Linked DNA regions of Homo sapiens. The protein of the gene in region 3 interacts with the protein of the main gene of each other region in a biochemical or structural test. Each region holds a gene or a part of one and is shown on either strand. Other genes may lie near its edges.

Region 1 (7,023 bases), on a different chromosome or scaffold from region 3:
GGATTACAGGCGTGAGCCACTATGCCCAGCCCCAAAGTAATCTTGAGCAAGAAAAATAAAGCTGGATGCATCACACTTCCTGATTTCAAAGTACATGACAAAGTTACAGCAGTAAAAACAGTATGGCACTGATATAAAAACAGACATGTGGACCAATAGAAGAGAATAGAGAGCCCAGAAATGACACATTTTTGGTTAGCTGACCCTCAACAAAAATGCTAAGGACACCTAGTGGGGAGTAGATAGTCTTATCAATAAATGCTGCTGAGAAAATTGGATATCCACATGCAAATGAACGAAATTAGACCCTGATCTCACACCATAAAGAAAAATCAATTCAAATGGATTAAAGACTTACACATAAGACCTGAAACTGTAAACTCAGAAGAAACAAGGAAAAAGCTTCTTGACATTGGTCTGGGCAGTGATTTTTTTGGATGTGACACCAAAAGCACAGGCAACAAAAACAAAATGGACAAGTGGGAGTACATCAAACTAAAAAGCTTCTGCCCAGCAAAAAACAGTCAACAAAATGAAGAAGCGGCATACTGAATGGGAAAACATTTGCAAACCGTGTATCTGATAAGGAGTTAATATCCAAAGTATATAAGGCATGCAGTAGCAAAAAACAACCCAATTGAAAGATGGGCTAGGGGCCTAAATAGACATTTCTCCTAAGAAGACATACAAATGGCCAACCGGTATATGATAAGATACCCAGCATCAGTAATCATCAGGTAAATGCCAGTCACTCCCCAATGAGATAGCACCCCACACTGGTTAGAATGGCTATTATCAAAATACAAAAGATAGTAAATGTTGGCAAGGATGTGGAGAAAAGGAACTTGTCCACTATTGGTGGGAATGTAAATTGGTACAGCCATTATGGAAAACAGTATGGAAGTTTCTGCTCAAAAAATTAAAAATAAAGCTACCGCATGATCCAGCAATCCCACTTCCAGATATATATCCAAAAGAAAATTGCTATCCTGATGAGTTATCTGTGCTTCCATGTTCATTGCAGCATTATTCACAGTAGCAAAGTTATGGAAACAAGTTATATGTCTATTGATGAATGGATAAAGAAAATGTGGGGGGTATGTGTGTGTATATGAATACTACTCAGTCTTAAAATGGAAATCCTGCCTTTTGCAACAACATGAGCGAACCTGGAGGACATTTTGCTAAGTGAAATAAGCAAGACAGAAAGACAAATGCTACATTATCTCACTTATATGTGGAATCTAAAATAGTCGAGCTCATAGAAGCACAGAGTAGATTGGTGGTTGTCAGGGGCTGGAAAGTGGGAGAAACGGGAGATGTCGGTCATTGGTACAAAGTGTCAGTTATGCAGGATAGATAAATTCTGAAGACCCAATGTACAGCACGACTATATCGTATGTTACAAATTTGCTAAGAAGGTAGATCTTGTTTGCGCACCACCTCCCCTCCAAAAAAAAGGTAACTGAGAGGTGCTGGATATGCTAAAAGAAAAACAAAATGATATGTATATTTCAGTGTTCATAAATATTTATTAAAACAGCCACACTAATTTGTGTATTGTCTATGGCTGCTTTCATATTGCAACAGCAGAGCTGAGGAGTTGCAGCTGAGGCTGTATATGTATACATAGTGTTTGACTCTTTACAGAAAAAGTTTACCGACTCCTGGTATAGGTGATACTTACATCATTTTCAGCTTTGGAAGGGCAGTGTGATGGAAAATTTTCAAACTTTTTTTGAGTCTACCTTTTGATGTTTTTTGTCAATTTTTAAAAAATTCTGTAAAAATTCTGCATGTCATCTTTTTAGCAACTGATCCTGCCCCAGTCTAGTGCTCATCTTTCCTTTTGGGGCTCCAATTATATGTATGTTATACCTTTTCACTGTAACCCTTATGTCTGTAGTGGAAAAGTCACCTAAAATTTCACATTACTCTAAGTTTACTTCACTATTTTGTTCTCAGATACCTTCAAACATATTTTAAAAACAAACAAAAAACTTTTCTAGCTTTTCTAATCGTTCTCCGTTGGAGGTTTGGTACAAATTGCATAATCCACTATTAATGAAAACAGAGTCCATTTCCAAAAATTTAGTCAACTATTCTCTCCATAGTATGAATTACTTTTTCATTTAAAGTTAAAATGTTACTTATCTTGAAGGGTCAGATTAGCTGTGTTTATTATTTTTAAAACATTGCCAGATAGTTTTGTGTTGACAGCCACTTGTCCCAGAAAAATTCAGCAAATCTGAAACATTTGTTATTTTTAAAAGGAGAATATTTAACTCATTAAATTTGACAGCTCTTAAGGACTTTGCCAAGATAGCCAGAATAATAGTGCATGGAATATCTTCATGGTTAATATCATTTTGCTATAAATCATTGATAGTAAAGATTCTCCTATTTAAACTAGTATAAGCTGCAAATTCACATTCATGGGCACACACAAACTGCAGTGTTACAATACTGTAAAAGCTAATGAACAAACGGGAAACAAACAGTCAAACTCTGATGTAAAGAACTTCCACCTTTCCATTCTACCACTGTGCATTTTGACAGATCTAGTGAGGGTGCCATTGTCAAACTATTCATTAAATATCTTTGAAGCTCATTTCCTTCCTTCCTCTGATAAATTGTAAACTAAAGTTCTAAAATGTAAGTTCTTAAATCTCGGGGCACTATCTCAAGCACCCTATATATGCTTCCAGTCCATTCTTAATCCCTTACAGGGATTATTCTATACAAGGGCATAATCTTTTAAAAATAAAATGATCATGTCTTCCTTAAAAAAACTGTAAGGCTTCATATTGCATTTAGAATAAAACCCACAATTCTTATTCCGATGTTTTATTTGGTTAATACATATAAACAGAATGTAAGCTCCTTAAGAGCAGGGACTTTGTCCTTTCCCAGTACGTAATCAGCATCTGGAGCAGTACCTCACAAGGAGATGACATGAGTAAATGTCTCATGAATAAACATTATATGAATAAAAAGGAATTAAATACCTAGAGTTTCATATTTGTGGTACTAGAAGATTAAAACTCTATTAAAGGGTAAACTGATTTGCCTTTTTAGGTTGCTCTTCACAAAATTGTCACATAATAAAATTTTGGGAATGTTTTTATTGAAAGCTCTAAGGCTTCTTAGCTGTCATTACTATAAACTGCAACATTATTGGTGTGTTAATGTTTTTACTTGTCCCTCCTGTATGTCTTTGCTTTGACTAATAAGAACATATATAGTGACCACATTATAAAAAGCTGACTGCAAAGGAGTTGGCTTTGACACATTGGTCATTGTTTGCCTTCGTCACATTCACAGTCCTTACGCAAGTATCTATCCGGATGATTGATCTCAACTTGGCTGCCTCAGTGGTAATAGGTCCTAAAAGAAGGCACCTATTCCTAATGTCTCATAGTTTGTCTCTGTTGTCAACTGCTGCTTCCATAGTTGACATTGAATACTTAACTTCAGGCTAACTTTTGGTAGTATATCTTTGCTTCAATTGTAAACATTTGGCAAGAACTTTTTGAAAACAAATGCTACTTTGTTTCTAAAATTTGAGATGTTAACTTTTTCAGGAAGCTCATAAAATGGTGAGAGAAGCAAATATCAAGCAGGCAACAGCAGAAAAACAGCTAAAAGAAGCACAAGGAAAAGTGAGTTTTTGCAGCTCTTAATAGTATAAAATAAATTTGTGATAACTGTTTTAAAGATACCTTAACATCTGTTGGATTTTGTTCTGATCGTAAAGTAGTGCTTGTTTTCAATTTGGAAACTACAGAAAAATAGAAGAAAATAGCTACTATGTAGGTATAATTAATAGTAAACATTTCGTGTCCATTTATATGAGAACCAAATGATTTAAAACCTTGTAAATCACATGAATTATCCAAAGGATTATAGAATCACATTTTAATGTTAATACTTAGTTTTTAAATTCACTGAGAAAAGCCACCTAAATGTTATTAGATTTTACTGTTTTAGGAGTGAACTTCTACAACTAATCATAAGCTATTATATTTTGAGGATTTTGAAAATTCACATAAATGTTAGATATTTTGGTAATTTTCACAGGCTCATTTGACGTTGTTAATAATAGATGAATCCAAACCATATGGAAACATCAAAAAACTTGATTTTAGTTTCTTTTTATTACTCCACAGGAAATACAAATTAAACTTACTTTTCATCTTTGAAAGTGTTTTGACCAGATTGCTAATATTTAGCTGCATATGTCATGAAACGTATTTAATGTATGTGACTATGTTGATTTCTTTCCAAGATTGATGTACTTCAAGCTGAAGTAGCTGCATTGAAGACACTTGTATTGTCCAGTTCTCCAACATCACCTACGCAGGAGCCTTTGCCAGGTGGAAAGACACCTTTTAAAAAGGGGCATACAAGAAATAAAAGCACAAGCAGTGCTATGAGTGGCAGTCATCAGGACCTCAGTGTGATACAGCCAATTGTAAAAGACTGCAAAGAGGTAACTCATCAAGGACTGTCCCCTCTGACTCTGTTGATACTTGTTAGTTCTCATCACTGAGGTGTCAGTTATCATTTTTGCCAGCAAAATTTTTAGTACAAAATAATGCAGTATTAAGATGGGGGAGGCTTTATCTAGAGCTGGCTGCTTTCAGGGATTCTTCAGTTCCATTTTCTACCTGGCTGACCTTGGAGTACCTGCTGGAAACTTGGTAAGTTTCTTAATCTCAGTATTTCATTAAGGGAGGAAACTGTCATGTGTTGTCTAGAGGAGAGTGGGTGGCTTTAATGATCTGGCTAGTCAAAATTTATTGCTAGAGTGCGCTTACAAAGTATGGATATAAGAAATATGTGAAAATAAGATGATTTTCTTAAAGATCAATACATTGCTTTTATTTAAATTCAGAGAGAATTTTATGTCAGCAAGGGAGTCCTAGAGTTAATTTAGATAATTAAGCAACAAAAAAATAGAAATAATGGTAGCCTTACAATGACATAAGGCTGGAAGACATTTTGCTAAGTGAAATTTCAAGTTATAGTAGAACAATTAGTGTCATTTTTGATCCCAAATTAGGTTTCACAGTTCAGCCAGTCTGTTATTCAGACACTTACAACTATGTAAGGCCACCATTATCATGTATCCATAACAATTAAAAATTTAAAAACGAAATAATGGGCCGGGCATGGTGGCTCATGCCTGTAATCTCAGCACTTTGGGAGGCCAAGGCCGGAGGATCACCTGAGGTTGGGAGTTCGAGACCAGCCTGACCAACATGGAGAAACCCTATCTGTACTAAAAATATAAAATTAGCTGGGCATGGTATCTCATGCTTATAATCCCAGCTACTCAGGAGGCTGAGGCAGGAGAATCCCTTGAACCTGGGAGGCGGAGGTTGCGGTCAGCTGAGATTGCGCCATCACACTCCAGCCTGGGCAACAAGAGCGAAACTCTGTCTCAAAATCATAATAATAATAATAGTCTTATTTTAAAAGATATGTTACAAAGATAACTGAAATAATATATAAATATTTTGAGCTGTTTAGAGTAAAAATTTTTAATCATTGTATACTGTGAGAATGCATTTCTAAGAGGATTGATCAATAATTTATGAAGCTTTCCCATTTCTTCTTAGAAGCCATCTTTTACATTGTTAAATTCAAGTCCATCATTAATCTTGAAGAAATGTGTGTGCTTGTTAAATTTTTGTATGGAAGCCAGGAGTTTATTAAATGGAATAACCAATGTTAACCTGTTTTAATTGAATTGCATTTTGACGAATTATCAATAAAAATGATGCTGGTAAGAGAGAAGTTCAATACTTGGTTAAATCTGAATGTAACCAAATCCAAAATTCACATTGGTTTCTGTTAAATATTTAAGAAACTTCTTTGTCCTAACTTTAATTCTAATTCTTTGGAATTTAAATAGCAATTTTAATTGCCTGGTACAACTTGTATTTTTGGTGTTTCTTACTCAGTATGTGTAAGTAATTATGTACTTTCCCCCCTATTTACACTAACAAAATTATAAGTGTCTTCTCATGGAACATGGTAAAGATTCATTTTTAGTTTTTGAAATCCCTTAAAATGTGCATAGGCAGCATATAACTTCAAAATAATAACCTTTGCTCTTCAGGTACGTGTTATAGTCTGATGTTTCATGAAAAACTTGTCAAAAAGTCTTACTAGGCAAAGGAATTACATAAATTTGACCTGTGTAAGTCTTAGAAAAATATGTAACAATCTGGAAGAAAATTAAGCATGTCCGTGTTTTTGTAGAAAATATGATGGGGCACTCAGTTATGACATTAGCAACATGTCTTCTGTAAACATTTAAAATACACATGCATGCATGCAGACATACATGCCCAGTGCAAGGCTTTGGGATCAAGCCACTTAGATTTGAATTCGGACTTTACTGCTTTCTTGCTATGCAATCTCCGGCAAATTACAAATGGCAATCATAATATCTGTCTTGCACAGTTGTGAGGATTAAATGCTTGTAAAGTGCTTACGGTGGTTCCTGGCAGAGTCAGCTCTTAATAAATGGTTTAAATTACAGCCTTTAAACTAGAATCTTTCCTTAGAATACCACTTACCTGCTTTGGGGTTTATGTCCTTTTTCTTTTCTTTCTTTTTTTTTTTTTTTTTTTTTTTAATAAATTTGCATCTTTCTTTTTTTTTTAATTATTGTTATACTTTAAGTTTTAGGGTACATGTGCACAATGTGCAGGTTAGTTACAGATGTATACATGTGCCATGCTGGTGCCCTGCACCCACTAACTCGTCATCTAGCATTAGGTATATCTCCCAATGCTATCCCTACCCCATCCCCCCACCCCACAACAGTCCCCAGAGTGTGATGTTCCCCTTCCTGTGTCCATGTGTTCTCCTTGTTCAATTCCCACCTATGAGTGAGAATATATGGTGTTTGGTTTTTTGTTCTTGCGATAGTTTACTGAGAATGATGATTTCCAGTTTCATCCATGTCCCTACAAAGGACATGAACTCATCATTTTTTATGGCTACATA
Region 2 (7,023 bases), on a different chromosome or scaffold from region 3:
TTTTAGGACTGTACGAAAAGAATATATCACTGCAAAGTATGTAGATCATAGGTTTTCAAGGAAGACCTGTTCAACTTCATCAGCTAAACTAAATGAATTGCTTGAGGCCATCAAATCCAGGGATTTACTTGCACTAATTCAAGTCTATGCAGAAGGGGTAGAGCTAATGGAACCACTGCTGGAACCTGGGCAGGTAAGGCCTCACTAAAATCATTGGATAAAAAGTAATGTGGAAAATCAGTTTAAAAGGTGACTTATTTTAACATTATACCATATAATGAGATTCTTATACATTGGGTGGCCATGTCTAAATCAAGAGAATATGAGAGTGAAGAGGTGTGCTCCTTATAATTACTTGGGGGCAACTGATATATATGAAGCCTCCCTTGGCAGAGCATATTATTGACTTACTTATACTTTTCTTTCCCTTTTTAGGAGCTTGGGGAGACAGCCCTTCACCTTGCCGTCCGAACTGCAGATCAGACATCTCTCCATTTGGTTGACTTCCTTGTACAAAACTGGTATCGTTTTTGTTTTCTCTGTTGAATTACCTGAATATGCCTTATAAATTAACACAAACCAGTCCTATCAGTGGCCTAGATCGGGAATTGGCAAGCTTTTTCTGTGTCATGCTAGATATAAAAATTATTTTTGGCTTTGCAGGCATGAAGTCTCTCTGTCAGAGCTATTCACTTCTGCCATGGTAGTGTGAAAGCAGCCACTGACAATGTGTAAACAAGCAAGTGTGGCTGTATTCCAATGAAACTTTATTATTTTGTTTATAAAAACAGACAGTGAACCAGATATGGCCTACAGGCTGTAGTTTGCCATCTCTTGGCCTTTATAAATGTAAAATTATGTCTGTATCCAAAAATCTGCTGCACAGATTGGACACATTTGCTAACCGTTAGGAGAGGTTAAAAGAGAGAAGACTTAACAGCACAGGTCAACCATATTTGTGAGTTTTCATTGTTCCTAAATTTAATATAAGACAGCAGCAGTGTGTGTGGCTGGATCAATAGCTCATTCAAGTTTGGGATATACTGATGGAAGTATAAGAGTGAATATAGGAAGTTTGGACTTGCTGGATTCTTTATTCTCTTTATCTGTTCTGTAAGCAACAGATGATGAGGAGGAACTAGAGCTCATCTAAAGAAGAAGATCAAAATAGTGAGGGGATTTGAACCCATAGAGGAAAAATGGTACATAGACACAAGCCAAATTGTATAAAAGTCCAGGTTTCTTCCTCAGAGACAATATAGCATAGTGGCTCAAAACATTGGCTCCAGAGATAGATTACCTGTGTTCAAATATCCCTGCTTCACCATCCCTATCTTGAAAATCTTGAAAGCAAGCACTTCAGCCTCTCTGCGCTTCAGGGTTTTTTATCTGTAAAAGCGGTTATTATTAGTATTTACCCCATCATATAGTTGTAAAGATTCAATGAACTAATACATGTAAATGTTAAGAAACAGTGTCTGTCCCATAGGACCTGGCACTCTAAATAAATACTGCCTGTTATCACTGTATTGCTTATAAATCTAGGTTAGAAACATCATAATTTTCTCTATTATAATAATTAGGTCTCAAATTTGACTCAGTTGTCAGCACAAAAATAAGTGGCTAATCTATAGTTTTAAGTTATAAAGTAAGTCATTTTTTTCTAATCATCATCTAATTTTTCAGTGGGAACCTGGATAAGCAGACGGCCCTGGGAAACACAGTTCTACACTACTGTAGTATGTACAGTAAACCTGAGTGTTTGAAGCTTTTGCTCAGGAGCAAGCCCACTGTGGATATAGGTAAGAGTGTGTCTAGTGTCTTCATGACTGTAGTAAGCGTGTGTTGCATGGTACATTGTAATTTGATTATTGTTCCTTGCCTTCTTAAGGTGTTTCCTAGATAATTATGCAAATTAATTTTTTTCCTATTTCAGTTAACCAGGCTGGAGAAACTGCCCTAGACATAGCAAAGAGACTAAAAGCTACCCAGTGTGAAGATCTGGTAAGCAAAAATGGACGTGGGAGATTTATTAGACATTGGCTGCCTTAAAAGTGTCATTCTGAGAAGCTAGAATTGAATATTAAAAATGCAGATTCATTTTTTTTTAACACTTGCTAAAGAAAATCAGATGAGCAATGTGCTACATTAGAAAAAGTGGTAAAATGATAAATTTGTCATCCACATGTTTTTGGAATGCAGTTAAAGGAGGTGAAAGGCATTACACAAGTATTATTACCAGATCGACTTGTGCATTGAGGTCATGCTTTTTATTTCCCAGACCATTAGACTTTCTCTGCAGCTTAATAGTAAAGAATTATTTGAGAAGCTGCTCCAAAAATTGGGCAAGTAAAGCTCAGAGAGTAGTGGTCTTCAAAATGTTAACACACTGTTCTCCCAGCCCCTCCCCTTCCTGTGCACATTCACCTTTTTTGACCCTACTAGTTCTTGCTTAGCAAGTCAGGGCCTTCACATTAGTGTGATTCTCTTGAGTTTCTGCTAAGTGCCAGGTTCCAGGCCCACCAGTTGGGCCTTTTTATTCTTAAAAGAATCCTTTGAGACAATTATCCCTGCTCCCATTTTATGAATGAGAAAATGGGGCCACAGATTGGACTGGGACCTTAAAAGCCTACGTCTTAAACTTCAAAGACTCGTTTTGCCTTTCAGCCAGGAATTTGCAAGTTTGAGGCCCATTTAATAAGAAGAAAGCTTTTAATTTTGGAGACAAGTCATCAAAATAAAGAAGGCTCTGCCTGCAATTGTTTGCATTTCTTCTTGAGCCTGTCACATAGCAGTGCAGCTTGTCTAAGCAGAGTGTTGCCTATAGTACACCTACAGATGATTCATTGAAAACTAGGAATAAGGTGGGATTTGCTCAGTGTTTGTATAATATTGGGATGTTTCAGCATTTAAATTAAAATGGTGCACATTTGCTGTTCCTTCCAGCTTTCCCAGGCTAAATCTGGAAAGTTCAATCCACACGTCCACGTAGAATATGAGTGGAATCTTCGACAGGAGGAGATAGATGAGAGCGATGATGATCTGGATGACAAAGTGAGTGTAAATTATGTCCTCGAATTCTCAACAACTACCCCAACTTTTCTAGTCTGTGTAGACAAGATCCATTTTTGGTGAGATTGATTGATTGTGGTTTTATGATCCAATGTATCAGGGCCATTTATGTTGTTCAGTCCTTATTGGGCACCATTTAACAGCTATATTAAGGTTGTCCAGAGAAACAGAGCCAACAGGATAGGGAGAGAGACAGAGAAATTTTTTTTAAGGAATTGGCTCACATGATTGAAGGAGCTGTCAAGTTCAAAATGCACAGGGCAGGCCAGCAGGCTGGAAATCCCAGCAGGAGTTAATGTTGCAGTCTTCAGGCTAAAGACAGTCTGGAGGCAGCATTCCTTACCCTTTGGGGGACCTCAGTCTTTTTAAGGCCTTTCTTTGGCTGATTAGGTGAGGCACACCCACATCATGAAGGGTAGTTCCCTTGACTCGAAATCTACTCATTTAAATGGTAATTGCATCTAAAAAATTCCTTTACAGCAACATCTAGACTAGTATTTGACCAAACACCAGGACACTGTAGCCTGTTGACACATAAAATTAACCATGAAGCTAGGCATGGTGGCTCATGCCTATAATCCCAGCGCTTTGGGAGGCCAAGGCAGAACTATCGCTTGAGACCAGGAATTCGAGAGCAACCTAAGCAAAATGGTGAGACCCTGTCTCTACAAAGTAAATGGATCAATCAATAAAACGTGGTGGTGCTATTTGACAAGCTGAGGCAGGAGGATTGCTTGAGCCCAGGAGTTTGAGGCTGCAGTGAGCTATGATTGTACTACTGCACTCTTGACCTGAATGACAGAGCAAGACCCTATATCTTAAAAAAAAAAAAAAAAAAAATTAACCTTCAAAACAAGTAATTAGTAAGTAAATAACAGTTGTTATTTATTGAACATAATCATGCACTGTATAATAACATTTCAGTCCACAACACACTGCATACTCAATGGGGATCAATATAAGATTAAAACGGAGCTGAAAAATAGCCATCACCTAGTGATGCCATAGATGTCATAATACGGTAGTGCAACACATTCCTCAAATGGTTGTGGGATGCTGGTATAAACCAACCTACTGCACTGAGTTGTATAAAAATGTACAGTAATGTCCTAGGCCTTCACTCACACCCAGAGCAGCTTCCAGTCCTTCCAGCTCCATTTATGGAAAGTGTCCTACATAGATGTACCATTTTTTAATCTTATATAACATGTTTTTATTTTACCTCTTCTATGTTTAGATACACAAGTAATTACCATTGTGTTACAGTTGTTTACAATGTTTAGTATAGTAGCATGCTGTACAGGTTTGTAGCCTGGGAGCAATAGGCTATACCATATAGCCTAGGTGTGTAGTAGGCTCTCCCATCTAGGTTTGTGTAAGTATACTCTATGATGTTCGCACAAGAACGAAATCACCTAACACATTTCTCAGAATGTATGCCTGTCATTAAGGAATGATGTTCATTAAATATGGATTAGACAGATTTAAGCACTTACGTTATCTCAGATCATCTTTATTGAAAGTCCATAACTGAGTGCTGTGGCTCACACCTGTAATCCCAGCACTTTGGGAGGGTGAGACGGGTGGATGCCTTGAGCCCAGAAGCTTGAGACCAGCCTGGGCAACATGGCGAAACCCTCTCTCTACAAAAAATACAAAAATTAGCTGGCCGTGGTGGTGTGCGCCTGTGGTCCCAGCTGCCCGGGAGGCAGAGGTGGGAGAATCACCTGAGCCCAGGAACTCAAGGCTGTGATGAGCCAAGATTGTCCCATTGCACTCCAGCCTGGGTGTGGGTGTCTGAGTGAGACCCTGTCTCAGAGGAAAAAAAAAAAAAAGTACATAAGGGACATTGTTATCCCCATTTTACAGAAGAGAAAACTTACAAAGAGAATTTAGCAACTTGTCTAAAGTCTCCCAGCTAGTAAAGACAGTTTGGAGGATTAAACCCAGTTCTCACTGAGTTTTCCTTATAAGCAGTTAACTACCTCTGAAAGTTCATTCATGCATTAATTGATTGCCTATGTATTGGACATTTCCTGTATCACAGGCAGGATGTAAGGAATGGCCAAAGAGGTCCTCAAGCCTTAACAACTTTAAGAGGAAATAAATTATAATACAATGTGATAATCATTATAAGAGTATGGAAAAATTCCTGAGAGCTATTCAGAGGACCAAGCAGCTGCCTCAGTCTGCCTTCTCAAGGACATTGGAGATGGGTTTCTAAGGATAGGTGGAAGCTTGCCAGGGAAAGAAGTGGGGTGGAATGCATCATTCCAGAACACCACGTGCCAAGGGAAGGAGTCATGGTAGAGTCTGGATGTCGGAGGAATGGAGAGAAGCACTGTGTGTGAGATGCATTCACCTGGCTGGGTGGGGAGAGGCAGGCAGCTGCCTTGTAGAGTCAGGCAAACCAGATCAGGATGGCTTTGTGGGCAAGGTTTGGCCTTTGGGTTTTTGTGCAAGCAGTCAGAAGCCCACAGAGGTTTATTGTCTAAAGAGCAAGGTTTCCCACCAGCTCTGGCTGCAGTGTGGAGAATGGACTGGAGGAAGGAAACTGGAGAAGGGGCCATTCTGGAGGCTAGAGCTGCAGTGGGAGCTGGTGAGCACCTGTACTAGGAGGGGCTTCAAGGGATATTTCCAAGGGGAATGCAGGAACCAGGGACTCCAGGTGACACTGAGGTTTCTAACCTGGGCAGTTGAGTGGATCCTAATGCCATCACCACAAGCGCAAATACCAGAGATACCTCATGGGCCATTGGTTTGGAACACAAGTCACTGGGGTTGTATTTACAGATCTGTAAGTAATTATTGTGTAGCGGGCAGTGGGTGTGAATCCGTTTACTTTGCAGGGGGATATAAAATGAGAAAAGAGGCAAAGAAAGAACTTCAACGTTAAAGGGTTGAGCAGGGAACAAAACTTAATGTAGCAAATTAGAAATAGGTGGAAATACTATTCAAATGTTGCTGAAAAAGTCCTGCATTCTGAAGGTGTTTGCTTATTAAAAGTTAAATCTACCTGTGACCTTACTGTGCTTCTGACACTGCTGCTGATCCTAACCAGTGTTTCACTAGTGTGATTATTCATAGTGGTGAACGATATGAAAGTGTGGTATCTAGATCCTTCCCTTGTACTGTGTCAGCATCATGAGGCTCATTGTGGCTGACCTCATAAAGCTCAGAGAGCCACAGGAACCCAGATTCCCACCTGAGCCCGCCCTGCGGAGGCCCTCTGTACACATGAAGGGTGGTCCTTGATTATTATCTCACCTTCTTATTTCATCTGCCAGCCAAGCCCTATCAAGAAAGAGCGCTCACCCAGACCTCAGAGCTTCTGCCACTCCTCCAGCATCTCCCCCCAGGACAAGCTGGCACTGCCAGGATTCAGCACTCCAAGGGACAAACAGCGGCTCTCCTATGGAGCCTTCACCAACCAGATCTTCGTTTCCACAAGCACAGACTCGCCCACATCACCAACCACGGAGGCTCCCCCTCTGCCTCCTAGGAACGCCGGGAAAGGTATGGGCTTTGAGAAGGGCTTGTGACTCCATCCTCGAAGGGCTTGTGACTCCATCCTCAGAGCTGATAGTCTAGCCAGCTTTGAGGTAAGAATTGCAAGGTACATTTGAGTGGCGCGGATCGTGTTGTCAGGAGCAGCTTGAAATAGGGACCATGCCATTTGCCAGGTACCAAGAGCAGGACAGGCAGTGCTGTGGGCTCTCTTTGTGCATTATTTGTGTTAACCTTACAACAATCCTGTGAAGTATGTGCTTTTGTGCCCATTTTACAGAAGAGGAAACTAAGGCTCAATGAGATACACTGACCAGCCCAAGGTCACACCACTGGTAAGAGGTAAAGTTGAGATTCAATCTGAGGTCCACGTGGCTCCAGAACCTGTACTTTTTATAATGTGGAGTGGAGTTTCAGTTCTCTGGAAAGTTACTTTTCTCTACA
Region 3 (7,902 bases):
AGACCTAGTTCTACTCCTGTGAGACCTTGGGAGAGCTATCTGACCTTTCTGGGTTTCCAGTTTCTTACCTGTAAAGTGGGGATGAATCCTGCTTACCTACTATCTCAGAGAACTGTGGTATGATCCAGTGGAAACATCCTGAGCCTCACAGAAGTTCTCTATCAAGAGTTGGGTTATGGTAACAAGGAGCAAATGTGGTACTCTCCTAACTTCTTTGCTGTACTGAAGCAAGAGTATGTTTGGGAGAAGAGACAGCGCAGTAGCCAACAGCAACCAAGGGAGCTCAAGGTGCTCTCCAGCCCAGGGGCAAGAAGGAAACGCAGCAAAACACCTGGACCAGCAACCACCATCCACGCTGACCATACAGGAAAGTATCAGTCACATATTTCACTGCCCATTAGTGTAGGTGGAAAACTACCCTGACAATATCCCAACCGGAGCTAAGCTTGCGAGCATTGCAGGCTGCCCCGCACGCACCTGTCTGCACATCTTCTTAATGTGAACTCAGCAAGGAACCCTGATTTATCAGGACCCTGTGTTTTTTGTTTTGTTGCTGTTTTTTTTTTTTGAGACGAAGTCTCGCTCTGTCGCCCAGGCTGGAGTGCAGTGGCGCGATCTCCGCTCACTGCAAGCTCCGCCTCCCGGGTTCACGCCATTCTCCTGCCTCAGCCTCCCGAGTAGCTAGGAGTACAGGTGCCCGCCACCACGCCCGACTAATTTTTTTGTATTTTTTAGTGGAGACGGGGTTTCACCATATTAGCCAGGATGGTCTCAATCTCCTGACCTCGTGATCCGCCCGCCTCGGCCTCCTAAAGTGCTGGGATTACAGGCATGAGCCACCGCGCCCGACCATCAAGGTTCTTAATGTTATGACTGACACCCTAAATAGCAGTGTGCCAATTTTACCTCTTTTCTTACAGACCTCTTGGCTTAAACATGCATATGTACTTGAACACCCACTTACCAGATGTCTGCATGTGTGAGAAGTCAAAATACAAAAAATTGACAGATGCACCTTAGGGATTTCCTGCTAAGTAAAATATTTAAAAGTGAGCACTGGTATTATTTGATGTCCACCGGGTTATTGGCAGAACACACACGGCCCTGCTGTTATCTCCACTTAAACTTTATTAAGTGCTGAGGTAGACAGGAACAACTGCATCTTGGGGCCCACCTTTCCCCCAGGAGCAGGTGCCCTGAGGACCGCGTGGACCCCTTCCACACTGTACTGTGCGTAGTGCCTGTCCACGCATTTCACCTCTCCTACGAGAGTGGACGTGGCCCTAACGGAGTTCTGCTAGACTTCTGCATTTGCCAACAAGCTCCGAGGCTCATTGCCTTCCTCCCCAAAGGCACCAAAGTAAAAATTCTTAATTCCAGGACTCTCTACAAGCATTGACTGTCTCCCAAATAAAAGATGAAATCTAAGTAGAAAAGATGTCAACCACACACAGTAAAGTAATTGTACTCAAAATAGGTGTCTATCAGTAGGATCTCAAGGCGTCTGGGCAGCCTGGCCTCTGCGGCTAGAACTTGGGTGAATTCAGCCGAGCAGTATCTGGGCCCTCGGGTGGGGGAATCGCGGGGAACTTCTTCATTCAGGGGCACGTCGATCAGGCACCCTGGGGGGGTGGCGATCAGGCCCCCTGGGGGGGTGTCCCCAGGCGAGGAGCTGACCTCGGTAAGATCCAGCTGACGAGGCGCTGGGGGGAGGGGAAGAAACTGACTCCCCAGAATAGAACCTCCTTTTAAGAAGGGAAGAGGGACTCCAGCGCAATTCAACCAGAAATCCAGGGCCGAAGTGGTGAATAAGCAGAAAAAGCAGGACCGTCAGGTCTTGACAGTGCCTTTCCCGACTCCAGGGGCAGCGTCGACCGGTCCCACATCAACCCCGCCGGCCAGCGCGCACCTGCCCAGTTCCCACGCCCCGGCCCGGGCCGCTCCGTACCTGCTCTGCCCCGTAGACCGTAGCAAACTGGATGAAGTCCTCGATGCGGACGAAACCGTCCCCATCCCCGTCCAGGGCATCGAACACGGCTCGGAGGCGGGGGCCGTCCTCCTGACTCCCCACGGGCTCGCTCGGAAGGGGGTGGGTCTGGCTGAGGTCCGAGGGCTGCGGCGGGGACCCGGGACCTTGCTCCAGCGCCAGCTCGCCCGCCGTGGGCGCGGGGAAGGGAGAGAAGACGTCGACCTCGCCCCGCGCTCGGTGGCTGCTGCTGGACCCCTGCAAGCGGAAAGGCGCGCTCTCCGGGCAGCTCGCGGGGCCACACTCCTCGGGCTCCTCAGTCCAGGAGAACAACGGGTCGAGTTCTGGAAGCGGCGCTTCGGAGCGCGGCCCTGGGCCCGGGGCGTCGGGGCTCGCAAGCTGCCCCCGCGGGCCGGAGCGCGGCGGCGGGGCGGACGGCCCGGGGTCTCGCGGGCCTCCCTCCAGCCCCGGGGCCGGCCCGGCGCTCCAACGCGCCCCGCCATCTGCAGCGGCCCCGGGCGCAGGCTCATCCAGGCCCGGGGACTGCGGGTCGGGGCCGCCGACGGGCGCTCCGAGGCGTAGCTCCGCAGGGCCCGGAGCCAGTTGTGCCGCCCCCGGCCCGTCCGGCCCGCCCGGCTCCGGGTCGGGCCCCGGCGGCTCCGAGCCCGGGGGCGAGGCCGGCGGGGCCGACGCCATGCTCCCGAGAGGCTAGTGGTGCGGAAGGGCGCGGGCGGCAGACAAAGGCGCTCAGGGCGCGGCGGCGGGCGCGGGCATCCCCTCGGCGGCGCGGGCGGGCGCGCGCGGGGCGCCCGGGCTGCTGGGGCTGGCGCTCGGGCCCTGCTCTGTCCTCGCCCATCTTCGCACCGCGCCTCAGCTGCCCTCGGCCCGGCGGCGCGGCGGGCGCAGGCCCATGGCGGCGGGGCGGCCTAGGGAGGGCGGCGAGGATCCGGGCGGCGGATGGCGGGGGACGGGGGCCGAGGAGGCCGGGGGACGGGGGCCGAGGAGGCCGGAGGCCGCGGAGCCTGTGAAGCAGGATGAGGAGACTAAGGAGGCTGAGGCGCCTGAGGTACCCGGAGAACTAACGCCGCCGCCGCCCAGGCCCCGCCCCCCGTCGGGCCTGACGTCAGCACGTCCCGGCGGGGTCCCAGCCCCTCGCCGGCTTGCTGTAGAGGCAGGCGCCGGGTGTGTCGCGGCAGTGCAGCGGCCGCGAAGGGGTGTTTTGCTGTATGTCATATTCCTCGTTTCGCCAGAGCGGGGGTCCCGAGCTTCGGGCGCGGGACGCGGGGGTGCTCCGAGGCTGCGAGTGGAGGCGTGACGTGACGTCCCTGGCAAGAGGCGCGCGGAGTCAGGCCTTACTTAGAACGTGTTCCCGCCGCACAGCTACCAGCGGGCGCGACCGCTACCCACGCATGGTGCGGTCGAGTAAACGGCACCGCCTGGCGAGCGAGAGACGCAAAGGGACATAGCCCCCTAGGAGCTGAGCTCTTCGGGGGTAAAGCGTTCTCACGTTGATGAGACCAGGAGGCGGCGCACGCCTGGCTCCGCGGCCCAGGGGTTGCAGGTGCCCCAGGGTTCGCGGGGCGCAGACGCCGCAGAGGGCGACGCCCTGCCCGGGTCCCGCGCGGACCCGGGGGACGCAGGGTCTGACACGGAGTGCGGAGGGGCCCCAGACACGCAGTCCATGTCCCTTGAAACCAGAGGCACGCGCGGCCACGCGCTAGGCCTTTCCCTTAAGCCTGTGACCAAGATCTCCGGGACTCCCAGCGTTGGGACGGGCGCGCTGGCCCACGCCCAAGCGGGAGGATCGCTTGCGCCCAGGAGATTGAGACCAGCCTGAGCACCAAAGCGAGACCTCGTCTCTACAAAAAATAAGACTCAAGAAGACACCCAGGGTGAATCGCCCGTCTGCAGCCAGCCTCCCGAGCACCGTGGCCGCGTCTGACAACTGACCTCTGTGTCTGGGTGTCCCTGTCCTCAGAGGGACACGGGACCTCAGAAAGGACCACAGCCCGGCGGCAGGCATGATGGTGGGAAAGCTAGTTAGGACAGGTGAGGCACTAAATTTAGCCTGTCATAATTTGTATCAGGGAAATGATGAACTTGTATTTTTACACACCATGGGCACCAACACAAGATATGGTTTCGTAAGCAGCTTTGGCAAGAACCAAAGGAACGGAACCTCTGCTTCCAAGTGTACGGTCAGGAGCAGCGTGTTAATTAAGTGAGTCATCTTCCGTGGCAGAATCCCAGGGTACATGGGACCAGACTTCGCGAGGCTGGCATTAGGAAAAGGAATGTGAGGGATCCTCCTCCCCAAACCGTATTCTCATTTTCTTGTAAGAGCTGTACGTGTTCATGAGGAAGATACTGCATTCAAAGAACGAAATCACCAGCAGCTTTGGCAAGAATTCAAATTTGGGCTGATGCCTTCGGCCGGATAAAATTTTCAGAAGCAGTGATAGTGATGTGTCAACCTTTCTAAATAGGGGTGTTAGTGTGGGCGAGGCAGAGACAGCAGGCTCCCTCTGCTTTTATGTGCCGGCGCTGCCAGAGGCAGAAGGCTGGCTTTCTGAGAGCAGGGGCCCGCACGCTCTGTCTGTGCTAGGGCTGGAAAACGTCCATTGCGTGCCCGGCTGGTGTCCTCCATGGAACCACAGCCTGGAAGCCTGCACCTCCCTGCCTGGACCAGTTAGAGGCTGTTCATGAAAGACTAAAGGGACAAGTTCCCGTCTATCCGTCTGCTGTTCAGAGCTACTATCTGTGTCCCCTTTGTAGGCTGTGGGCTGTAGCAGTTCCTTCTTTTCTTTTCTTTTCTTTTTTTTCCCCGAGACAGGGTTTTGCTCTGTTGCCCAGGCTGCAGTGCAGTGGTGCGACCATAGCTCACGGCAGCCTCAACCTCCTAGGCTCAAGAGATCCTCCCACCTTAGGCCAGGTGTGGTAGCTCATGCCTGTAATCCCAGGACTGTGGGAGGCTGAGGCGGGCGGATCACGAGGTCAGAAAATGGAGACCATCCTGGCTAACACGGTGAAACCCCGTCTCTACTAAAAATACAAAAAAACAAAAATTAGCCAGGTGTGGTGGCAGGCACCTGTAGTCCCAGCTATTTGGGAGGCTGAGGCAGGAGAAAGGCGTGAACCCGGGAGGCAGAGCTTGCAGCGAGCCAAGATTGCACCATTGCACTCCAGCCTGGATGATAGAGCAAGACTCCGTCTCCAAAATAAAAAATAAAAATAGAAGAGAGATCCTCCCACCTCAGCCTCTCCAGTAGCTGAGACCACAGATCTGCAGCACCTTATTATCTTTTTTTTTTTTTTGATATGGAGTCTCACTCTGTCGCCCAGGCTGGAGTGCAATGGCGCGATCTCTGGTCACTGCAACCTCCGCCTCCCGGGTTCAAGTGATTCCCCTACCTCAGCCTCCTGAGTAGCTGGGATTACAGGCGTATGCCACCAAGGCCGGCTAATTTTTTGTATTTTTAGTAGAGACCGGGGTTTCACCATGTTGGTCAAGCTGGTCTCAAACTCCTGACCTCAAGTGATCCGCCCACCTCGGCCTCCCAAAGTGCTGGGATTATTGGCATGAGTCACCACACTTGGCCTCAACATGCGTTTTGGAGGGTATAAACATTCAAAGCATAGCCTCCATCTTCTCACTCTGTCCTCACATGTTGGAGAAAGATTGTCTCTTTTGGGCTGGGCGTGGGAGCTCATGCCTGTAATTCCAGCACTTTGGGAGGCCGAGGCGGGTGGATCACGAGGTCAGGAGTTCAAGACCAGCCTGGCCAAGATGGTGAAACCCCGTATCTACTAAAAAATAGAAAATTTAGGCCGGGCGCGGTTGCTCAGCCTATAATCCCAGCACTTTGGGAGGCAAGGTGGGCGGATCACAAGGTCAAGAGATCGAAAACATCCTGGCAAACATGGTGAAACCCTGTCTCTACTAAAAATACAAAAATTAGCCGGGTGTGGTGGCACCCACCTGTAGTCCCAGCTACTCGGGAGCCTGAGGGAGGAGAATCGCTTGAACCTGGGAGGCAGAGGTTGCAGTGAGCGAAGATCGCACCACTGCACTCCAGCCTGGCGACAGAGCGAGACTCCACCTAAAAAATATATGTATATATTAGCCGGCCGTGGTGGCGGGCACCTGTAATCCCAGCTACTCAGGAGGCTGAGGCAAAGAATTGCTTGAACCCGGGAGGTGGAGGTTGCAGTGAGTCAAGATCACACCACTGTACTGCAGCCTGGGTGATGGAGTGAGACTCTGTCTCAAAAAAAAAGAAAAAAAATTATCCGGGGGCGGTGGCGGGTGCGTGTAATCCCAGCTACTCAGGAGGCTGAACAGGGTAATCACTTGAGCCTGGGAGGCAGAGGTTGCAATGAGCTGAGATCCAGCCACTACACTCCAGCCTGGGCAACAGAGCGAGACTATCTCAAAAAAAAAAAAAAGGCGGGCGTAATGGCTCACGCCTGTAATCCCAACACTTTAGGAGGCCAAGGCGGGTGGATAACCTGAGGTCAGGAGTTCGAGACTAGCCTGGCCAACATGGTAAAACCCTGTCTCTACTAAAAATACAAAAACTAGCTGAGCGTGGTGGCGTGTCCTGTAATCCCAGCTACCTGGGAGGCTGAGGCAGGAGAATACTTGAACCCGGGAGGTGGAGGTTGCAGTGAGCCAAGATCCCACCATTGCACTCCAGCCTGGGCAACAAGAGGGAAACTCCATCTCAAGGAAAACAATAAAATAAAAATAAGGCTGGGCACGGTGCCTCACGCCTGTAATCCCAGCACTCTGGGAGACCGATGCGGGTGGATTACCTGAGGTCAGGAGTTCAAGACCAGGCTTGCCATGGTGAAACCCCATCTCTACTAAAAATACAAAAAATTAGCCAGGCATGGTGGTGCATGCCTGTAATCCCAGCTACTTGGGAGGCTGAGGCAGGAGAATCACTAGAACCTGGGAGGCGGAGGTTGCAGTGAATCGAGATTGTGCCATGGCACTCCAGCCTGGGCAGCAAGAGTGAAACTCCGTCTCAAAAAAAGAAAAAAGAAAAAAAAAGACTGTCTCTTCTAATAAGGGCACTGTTCCCATCGTGAGGGCCCCACCTTGCTGACCGTATCTAACCCTAATTATTATTATTATTATTTTTTTTTGAGACGGAGTCTTGCTCTGTCGTCCAGGCTGAAGTGCAATGGCGCCATCTCAGCTCACTGCAATCTCTGCCTCCCGGATTCATGCCATTCTCCTGCCTCAGCCTCCCCAGTAGCTGGGACCACAGGCACCCGCCACCATGCCTGGCTAATTGTTTTGTATTTTTACTAGAGCCGGGGTTTCACCGTGTTAACCAGGATGGTCTCGATCTCCTGAGCTCATGATCCACCCGCCTCGGCATCCCAAAGTGCTGGGATTACAGGCGTGAGCCACCGCGCCCGGCCCTAACCCTAAGTTATACCTCCCAAAGACCTCATCTCCAAATACCATCCCGTTGGCGTTAGGACTCCAATATATAAATTTTGGGGTAGCAACTGGGAAGAGAGAGTTAGAATGGATTTAATGGACAAAATATTCATTTCTAGAATACACAAAAGAATTTCTCAAAAAACAGTAAACGAACAGCAACCCGATAGAAAAACGAGGAAAGAATATGAATAAGCAGCTCCAGAAGAGGAAATTCAGGTGGCCGGTAAACACATGAAAAAGATGCTCATCTTCACTGGTCACCAGGAAAATGTGTGAGTGTAGCCCTTGACACCAATCAGAGTAAGTCTGGGGACACCAGGGAGTGGGGATTTGGCACCAGTCGTGCAGCTGAAGGTCGGAATACTCCAGTGTGGGATCCGCCTTCCAGTACCTGCCGGAGAAACTGCACATGTCCGCAGGGAGATGGAAAGACCTTGTTTCCTTCGGGGATTTGTACTTCTCTGGAAGAAGAGCCGAA

Evidence for each region. Proteins that work in one complex are often made in the same cells at the same time.
Region 1: the proteins of RAB11FIP3 (region 3) and RAB3IP form a complex in vitro, tested with the Homo sapiens proteins (one study listed by IntAct).
Region 2: the proteins of RAB11FIP3 (region 3) and ASAP1 form a complex in vitro, tested with the Homo sapiens proteins (one study listed by BioGRID).

The regions. Positions count from the first base shown.
Region 1 is NC_000012.12:69,790,853-69,797,875, forward strand, and holds part of RAB3IP (rab-3A-interacting protein isoform alpha 1), read left to right. Parts: intron 1-3,584; coding exon 3,585-3,662; intron 3,663-4,288; coding exon 4,289-4,492; intron 4,493-5,624; coding exon of another isoform or gene 5,625-5,750; exon of another isoform or gene 5,751-5,791; intron 5,792-7,023. UniProt on the Homo sapiens protein: Guanine nucleotide exchange factor (GEF) which may activate RAB8A and RAB8B. Promotes the exchange of GDP to GTP, converting inactive GDP-bound Rab proteins into their active GTP-bound form.
Region 2 is NC_000008.11:130,111,659-130,118,681, reverse strand, and holds part of ASAP1 (arf-GAP with SH3 domain, ANK repeat and PH domain-containing protein 1), read left to right. Parts: intron 1-6; coding exon 7-193; intron 194-435; coding exon 436-521; intron 522-1,686; coding exon 1,687-1,802; intron 1,803-1,936; coding exon 1,937-2,004; intron 2,005-2,667; coding exon of another isoform or gene 2,668-2,850; exon of another isoform or gene 2,851-2,868; intron 2,869-2,946; coding exon 2,947-3,054; intron 3,055-6,359; coding exon 6,360-6,588; intron 6,589-7,023. UniProt on the Homo sapiens protein: Possesses phosphatidylinositol 4,5-bisphosphate-dependent GTPase-activating protein activity for ARF1 (ADP ribosylation factor 1) and ARF5 and a lesser activity towards ARF6.
Region 3 is NC_000016.10:420,767-428,668, reverse strand, and holds the start of RAB11FIP3 (rab11 family-interacting protein 3), read right to left. Parts: upstream 3,021-7,902; 5' UTR 2,663-3,020; coding exon 1,949-2,662; intron 1-1,948. UniProt on the Homo sapiens protein: Downstream effector molecule for Rab11 GTPase which is involved in endocytic trafficking, cytokinesis and intracellular ciliogenesis by participating in membrane delivery. Recruited by Rab11 to endosomes where it links Rab11 to dynein motor complex.